2 separate regions of the Homo sapiens genome follow, and region 2 is linked to region 1. Evidence: fine-mapped expression QTL. A gene starts in region 1. The other region holds a variant in brackets. All regions are shown on one strand. Distances are from middle to middle. Region 1 holds the start of AFF1 (ALF transcription elongation factor 1). Region 2 overlaps AFF1 (ALF transcription elongation factor 1).

The links. PIP is the estimated chance that this variant, and not a neighbour inherited with it, causes the effect.
Region 2: its variant is the best candidate, but not a certain one, in a credible set for the expression of AFF1 in subcutaneous fat (TwinsUK, PIP 0.60).

Annotation. Positions count from the first base shown.
Region 1 is chr4:86,932,787-86,937,316 of GRCh38, reverse strand. AFF1 (ALF transcription elongation factor 1) reads right to left here and starts at 2,306. Exons shown (of 21, transcript NM_001166693.3): 1 at 2,077-2,306. It overlaps AFF1-AS1 (AFF1 antisense RNA 1), which reads left to right and starts at 2,467. Exons shown (of 3, transcript NR_038841.1): 1 at 2,467-2,830; 2 at 3,775-3,922. It also overlaps a transcript of C4orf36 not described here. RefSeq lists enhancers at 872-991, 847-1,388, 1,389-1,930 and silencers at 1,243-1,381, 1,852-2,601.
Region 2 is chr4:86,983,849-86,987,848 of GRCh38, reverse strand. All of the region lies in intron 2 of AFF1 (ALF transcription elongation factor 1), which reads right to left. Among named protein-coding and RNA genes, the nearest start is that of AFF1, 51 kb to the right of the region's middle. The variant C/A (reference allele first, on the strand shown) is at 1,765.

The DNA.
Region 1 (4,530 bases):
GCCTGGACTTTTGTCATAAATTTTCAATCTCTAAATGATCTTTGTATTCTAATTTAACACACTGTGATTCTTCAAAATTATAGTTTTGCAAAGTTGAAGAGTTAAGCAAATGCCAAAGCCACAAATTCAATTGTTACAGTGAATAAGGCAGATTAATATTTAACAGTTCATTTTCTTGCAGGTGAAAAGCAAAGAATTCACAGCAACATACCTGCAAGTCTCACATCTCCAGCCTCAACATCCTTGTAAGTTATATTTGAAAAAAGAAAAGTCTCCAATATCTAAACTCATTTTCCCCAAAAGTCCCACTCTTCAATCTCTATTTGTCTCAAAGTGACCAAATCTATCCCAAATTATTTCCTTGGTTCTTTCTCTCCATAAAAATGGCTTAATTCCAGTGAGTTTCTCTAGTTTTACGTACTACTTATGTATTTTGTTGCTTTCTCTCATCTCCCCTTGGATCATTTTCCTTTAGTTCTCACCACTGCTTTTCTCCATATTTATCTTCAAATATTCAAGTACAATACTTCCCAACATCCACAAGAGACAACACCTTGAAATTAAAGCAAGCAAACCATCCAGAATTTTCCATTCTCCTGTGAATCTACTTCCGGAATATCCACTCAAGTAATCCTTCCCACTAAAGATGAAAGGCGAGCTAAGGAAATACATTAGACAGAGGAAGTAAACACTGAAACAGGGCCATGCCTAGGTATTCTTCGGCCCCAAAGAAAAAAAACTAGACTCTGGGTCCAAAGGTCTTTTTCGTGACTTTTATCCCCACCCAGAGGCCAACACCACGCAGGTCTGAGAGAGGTAACCCACGGCCACCTACCTTCTACACACACCGCACGACCTTGCTCTGAAATAATCTTGCACAAGCAAAATTCTCCACGCCTCTCAGACTCCTACCTAACGTTTCTGTGCTTCAGTTTCTGAGCTCTTCTCACTTTGCAACTGTCCCAGGGAACACTGGGTCTTCGCCTTAATTTACAAGTTTGCACTGAAGGTTTTAAATCAGTCTGATTTCCCCGTGGTGAGTCACACCCCGCAACGTGCACCAAGGGGGAGGGTGTTTAAAATTATCTCCGGCTCCACCCTTAAAACAAATCACTTGGCTGCAAGGCCTTTCCCCCTAACAGAGACTGGTTCAAGGGAGATTCGGACACATCTCCACCTCCAAAGCCAAGTGCCTTCCCGGGATGATCTGCATAACAATTTGCGGGTGCTGGTGGTGGAGAAGCTCCGGGAAGAGAAAACTAGCCGGACGGTATCGAACCGCCCGCAGGCCCGTCGCAGCTCCATTAATGCAACTACCATTACACTAAGGTAACGTGTGATTCACACTCTCCACCTTCTCTCCCCTCTCATTCGCTGGCTCCGGCGCTCGCACCGTCGGAGGGTGGGGTTGCGACGGCCACAGAGGATGGGACACCCGAGGGAAAAAAGCATTATCAAGAGAAATTAACCAGTCCCATACTAAAGACGCCTCTCCCTCTGTCCCTGAAGTTAAGTCTCAGAAGGTGGCTCCAACTCCTCCCCGGAGGCTACGGACCACCGACACACGCCTCCCTCCTGCTCTCAGCGAGACGCGGCGGGAAGCCCTCATCTCTCTCCACGACAGGCACAGGGAAGGGTCCCGGGGTGCAGGAGAGAAGAACCCCACTTTTCCCCGCCCCCTCCCCCCGAGAAACTTCTGGGACTCATTACGCAACTCAAGTAGCAGGTCCCAACAACGGGACAGCTCTCCGCAAAACGCGGGGTGCACAGGCAAACGTCTGACTTGGGGGCTGCGCGTGAGGGAGGAGCATGGGTCTCTTCCCATGTCCCCGTCCCCTGTTTTTCTACGCGCTACCTGCCGCGGGATCGCAAGTAGGGCGGTGAGAGCTCTGAGCCCTAGCCCGTTCTCCCCGAGGGCTCCCACCGGAAAAGTGGGAACGCCAGCGACTTGAGTCAGCGTGCTGGGAAGCCGGCAGAGAGGCGGGGAGAGCCTCGGCTTCCGAGAAGTCCGCGGCGGCGGCGTCGGGGGCCGGGCGGATCGACCCCCAGCCCTGGGTGGCGCAGGGCTGCGCTCACCTTCCAGACCCTTCCGTCCTCTAGTCCCGGGTCGGGCGCCCTCGTCACCTCCGCCCTCCCCTGACCTGTTGCGGTGGGAAAGGGCGCAAGTGCGGACGACGCAGGGGAGCGCCTCCTCCCGGGGCTCGGCTGCGGAACCGCGGAGGCAAAGGTGCAGCTGCGGCCGCAACGCGCGCAGGCGGCGGCCGAGTGCGCAGGGGCCGCGCGCGCCCGTCGCTCGCTAGCTGGCTGGCAAGCTCAGCACGCCGGCTGCCCGGGACGCCCCGAGGCCACGCCCTCCGCGCGAGGCCCCGCCCCCACCCCCACCTCCCGAGCTGCGGTACCGGGTTCCGCCCCGGCCCGCGCCCTCTAGCTGGCGCCACCCAAGCGGCAAGGGACGTCGCGGCCCTCCCGGGATTGGTGGGAGGATCGTGGGGGAGCGGCAGCTCAGGACGGAATACGGCAATGACCGCCCCGGTCGCGAGGGTGACCCTGCCCCGGGCTGCTGTGGGGGCGCAAGAACCCTTTCACTTTACGGCGAGATTAAGCTCAGGGTCAAGTTCTGAGCAAAAAGTGTCAAGGAGCCTTTTTGCAACCTCCTATAATATTGAAACAGATTCTGTGCCCTTTAAAGGAGATAATAACTAACATCTGGGGAGCGCTTTACAATTTAGAAAAGGCCTTTCACACACAGGCCTGTTTCATCTTCACAACAATCTTATAAAACAGATATATTGTTCCCATTTCCCAAATAATGAAACGGAAGCGCCGAAAAGTAAGTATTGTGCTCAATGTCACAGGCTACTAAGTGGCATGGGAAACCAGGTCTCCTGAATCTAGCCTCCGGGTTTCTGCTCTCCACCAGCCCAACCTCAGAAAATTCTAATAGGTGCAGGGGGCTTTGGCAAATAGACCCATGGGAAGAAGGGGAAACTTATGTCTAGTTAAGTCGCTGCCCGATTCCTGCTGTAAACATACCAAGGAAAGCAACAGGCTGTCTTCATTGTGTTGTCGCACCTTCCTTCCTGAAAGGGACGCAGAAAGATTACATCAAATGGCCCAGATGAGATTTCGCCGACAGTATTTTATGGTTTAAAATGGGTGAAATTATTTGGATGAAGAAAAGCGCCTTACTTAAATTTAATATGATGTGTAATGTAAATTGGTATAATGTGTGAAAATAAGCCCCTCCCTGCCTTCTCTGCCTTTTCTCTTTTTAATTTTGTTTGTCTCTACTGCTCTGCTCAACTCTTTTATTGTCCACATAATTGAAAACCTAATTGATGGATATTTGCATTTCCAAATTAAACCTTTGGCTACTTGACTTAATTTCCCATGGATTGTTTTCCAAAATATAACTCTTCGCCCTACTCCATATCCTCCCATCGGGAGATTGGTTTACCTAGACAGCTAAAATAATTAAGGTGTCCCTGATGAAACCTGGTGGTGTATCTATCTAAGATGAAAGTTCTGGTCATCCCTGAGCAGGATGGGACAGGAGTCATCTCTTACAAAGTGTTTGTACACCTTTTAAAGGTTTCTAACAGAGACTGATCTCTATTCTAATCAATAACAAGTATTTTAACGTTTTTGCTATATAATGAATACATTTCATTGTGAAATATATATTAGCATGGTAATATTTTATAATCTGAAAACTTTTACCACTTCTATCTAAAATGTTTTCCTTTTTTGTGTTCTTTTTGTGTCATCCCATAGTATCTCCTATAGGGCTCTTCAAACTGTGGTCAACTTAGTAAATGATGTTGACAGTGGAAGTGTGATCATTTTATTTTCCTGCCTTTGGAATTGAAGATTGTAATTTTGCAAAAATTTTGTTGAAGATGATGTAGCTTTGGTTCAGAGAGTAAGTCATTCCATTTATATCAATATTCTTAAGGCAATGTGCTAGGTGACGAGCCATATTGATGACAAAGACAGAGCTCCTATTTTCATGACATTCCAGTGTGGTGGCAGAAACAAGCAAGTAAATAATTCCAGTACACACTTCTGTTGATTTATTTCGTGAATGGTGACTGGCTATTTAAAAAGACTAAATCAAATTAATTTTCTGATAATGAATAAAAAAGGATAGCCATGCCAGTGAGTTATTATTATTTTTTAAGTTGCCTTTCTCTCTCTTCTGCTGGTCATCTTATATAAATAGTCAATAAGAAGGCTATTTTAAAAAGTGATTACACTATATCTACTTTAAAAAATTTTTTATATCTACTTTTTAAATTTCAGACATAAACAAAAGGAGAGTAATTATGTAATGGAGTTGCAGATATTTAACTTTGTTAGCTACACTTTCCTCCATCATCTTCCTTACAAGAATTCTTAAATTACATTTTTAGCACACTCAATGAAATTCCAGCACTTTCTTAATTTTGACAACCTAATCTCATACATTTCAGATTATGTTTCTAATAAGATGAAGCATGTTTCTGACATCGGTGCTTTTTTTTTTTTTTA
Region 2 (4,000 bases), 51 kb before region 1:
CCCGAGTACCTGGGACTACGAGCGTGTGCCACCATGCCCAGCTAATTTTTGTATTTTTAGTAGAGATGGGGTTTCACTATGTTGGCCAGGCTGGTCTCAAACTCCTGGCCTCAAGTAATCCACCCGCCTCGGCCTCCCAAGTGCTGGGATTACAGGCATGACCACTGTGCCTGGCCAGACTGAATGATTTTTAAAACACAAATAATAACTTGCAAAAAGGGGGTGGTGTGCCAAATCATTACTACTCTCTGGTGGTTATTGCTTCTGGTTTCCACATGGGTATTAATCAGTTATCACCTACTGAAGAATTAGGACTTCCACACAGAGGGTTGGCTCTCCACCAAGTCTAACTCATCCCAGTCTATACATTCTTGGTTATCAAGACCCTAAATGACCCCTGACTCAAGGCCCAGAGCTGTTATGTTCAGATCCTGCTCAGGAGGGGACAAATGGTCTGGAAGAGGGTACAGAGCAACTTCCTAGGGTCAATCAGGTCATCCAGCGTGAGCCCTGAAGTTCCTGCCCCCAGAGGTAGACGCATTAAATAAAGTCTTATCCACAAGCAACATTATTGCTTATACATTATAATAATAAGATTCTGAGAAGGAAATCATGAGGGAGTGGCTATTATATAACAGCTAGAGCAGAGCACAGAGAAAGCAGCAAAGACATTTAGTCCTCTTCCTTATTTTACTGATAAGAAATTCAGGATAAGGGTTTTCAGTTTTAAATAGGCTTGAAGATGAGGATTTAAGGCAAGAGAATCACCTGATGCCAGCAGTTTGAGACCAGCCTGGGCAACATAGCAAGACCCCCATCTCTACAAAAAATAATATGAAATTAGCTGGGCATGGTGGTGTGTACCTGTAGTCCCAGCTACTCAGGACAGTGAGGCCAGAGGATCACTTGTACCCAGCAAGCCATGCTCATACCACTGCACCCCAGCCTGGGCAACAGAGACCCTCTCTTTAAAAAATGATGATTTTAAAAATAATAATAATAACCACAATACTATTATGTTATCTAAAATGTTTATTACTTGATATTAATGTAATATTACTTAATATTAATGTAATATTAATAAAATTTCCCTTACTAGCATCAAATATCTAATTATTCTTCCAATTTCATTAGTGTGTTCAGAGCCAAACAGGATCCTTTTATTAAGGGTTGATATGTCTCTTAGGCTTCTTTATAATCTATATTCTTTTTTATGAGATTTATTTGTTGGGGGAAAAACAATTTTTTTTTTCTGCAGAGTTCTAACATTATGAATTTTGCTGACAGCATCCAAGAAGAGTCCTTTAACATGTTTCTCAGTTGAATGTATGTTCTATAAACTGGCTTGATCAGATTTCTGTCTAAATTTTTGGAAAGACTATTTCATAGGTGGTTAGTCTATACCTCATTAAATCACGAGAAGAGGCACAATAGTTAACTCTTTTTAAAAATATCTTAACTTTAAATAATGGATTCAGGGCCAGGCACGGTGGCTCATGCCTGTAACACAGCACTACGGGAGGCCAAGGCGGGTGGATCACCTGAGGTCAGGTGTTCAAGACCAGCCTGGCCAACATGGTGAAACCCTGTCTCCACTAAAAATACAAAAATTAGCTGGGCGTGGTGGCAGGCACCTGTACTCCCAGCTACTCGGGAGGTCGAGGCACAAGATCGCTTGAACCCAGGAGGTGGAGGTTGCAGTGAGTTGAGATCATGCCACTGCACTCCAGCCTGGGCAACAGAGTGAGATTCGGTCTCCAATTA[C/A]ATTAAATTAAATTAAATTAAATTAAATTAAATTAAATTAAATTGAATTGAATTAAATTTTAAAAAAAGGATTCAGGTGTTTAATTAGTCACTTTAAGACATCCCATTACAAAGTTTCTCACCAGCTCTTTACCTAACAGTATTATCAATTAGTGGTAATCTTTGCTTATTCAGAGAGAGGATGCAAAATGATAATGTTATCACTTTTTATTAGTTTTTTTTTCTGTAAATAACTTTTTCTCTATCATTTAGTTACACTGAGTTACAGCTTATTCAAAAAACTAGGATAAATGCTTGATTCTTTTATTATTATTTTTTTAATTATGAGTTAGTTCCCTGCCATTTTCCAAAAGTAACTACTGGATTTTGCTATTTAGTATCATTTTAATTTTTGTTTATTTATTTACTAAGATGGAGTTTTGCTCTTTTCGCACAGGCTGGAGTGCAATGGTGTGATCTTGGCTCACTGCAACCTCCGCTTCAAGGGTTCAAGCGATTCTCCTGCCTCAGCCTCCCGAGGAGCTGAGATTACAGGCACCTGCCACCACGCCGAGCTACATTTTTTTTTTTTTTTTTTGAGACAGTGTCTCGCTGTTGTCGGCCCGGGCTGGAGTGCAATGATCTTGGCTCACTGCAACTTCTGCCTCCCAGGTTCCAGCAATTCTCCTGTCTCAGGCTCCTGAGTAGCTGAGATTACAGGCGCCCACCACCACACCCAGCTAATTTTTGTATTTTTAGTAGAGACAGGGTTTTGCCATGTTGGCCAGGCTGGTCTCAAACTCCTGACCTCAGGTGATCCACCCACCTCGGCCTCCCAAAGTGCTGGGATTACAGGCGTGAGCCCCTCTGCCCGGCCTAAAATATAATTTTATATATATATATATATATATATATATATATATAGTAATACATATTATATATATTATATTTTTATATATTATGCATAATTATATATATTATATTACTATTAATATTTGTATTTATAAAACATGTTAGTTTCCCTTTTCTATTAAATTTAGGATTACAGTGTTTTAAACTGTTTGATTTTGTTTGTATCTCTTTTCTCTATTTGTTTCTTAACAAGTACAATAATAATACCAATACCATTACTAAACATGTTTGCTGAGAACACTTTAAGATTTGTCTTTTTTATTTTTATTTTTTTAGATGGAGTCTCATTCTGCTGCCAGGCTGGAATGCAGTGGCATCATCACAGCTCACTGCAGCCTCAGCCTCCTGGGCTCAAGCAATCCTCCTGCCTCAGAATCCCAAGTAGCGGGACTATATGCCCAGCTACTTTTTAAAATTTTTTATATAGACAAGATATTGCTATGCTTCGCAGGCTGATGTCAAACTCCTGGACACAAGCAATCCTCCCACCTCAGCCTCCCAAAGTGCTGGGATAACAAGCTTAAACCACTGTATCCAGCTTTCTTTCTTTTTCATCCTTAAGATGTATCTTGGCCAGGCACAGTGGCTCATGCCTGTAATCCTAGCACTTTGGGAGGCCGAGGCGGGCGGACTGCCTGAGCTCAGAGTTCGAGACTAGCCTGGGCAACACGGTGAAACCCTGTCTCTACTAAAACACAAAAGAAATTAGCTGCACATGGTGACGTGCGCCTAGTCTCAGCTACTCGGGAGGCTGAAGCAGAATTGCTTGAATCCAGGAGACAGAAGTTGCGTGAGCTGAGATTGCACCACTGCACCTCAGCCTGGGCAACAGAGCAAGACTCAGTCACAAAAAAAAAAAAAAGAAAAAAAAATGTCACTTGGAAAAAAAAAAGGGTCACTTGAAATACAGTTCTCACTTTGAAAAATAGTGCAGGACCATAGAAACGACTATGAAAGCCGAAACTGTGCCAAACAACCTTAATCATCAACAGGAAAAATTACGATTGTCCACAGCATTTACAAATTTCTGTCAAAATGCTAATAATTCTGTCACTTACACATTTATAAAGAAATGAAAAAAGTAATATTTAGTAGGCTATGATTTAAAACACTAGATACATTGGCAAAGCATTTCTTTTTTCTTTTTCTTTTTTTTTGAGATGGAGTCTCGCTCTGTCACCCAGGCTGGAGTGCAGTGGCGCCATCTCAGCTCACTGCAAGCTCCACCTCCCGGGTTCACACCATTCTCCTGCCTCAGCCTCCCGAGTAGCTGGGACTATAGGCACCCACCATCACGCCTGGCTAATTTTTTGTATTTTTAGTAGAGACGGGGTTTCACCGTGTT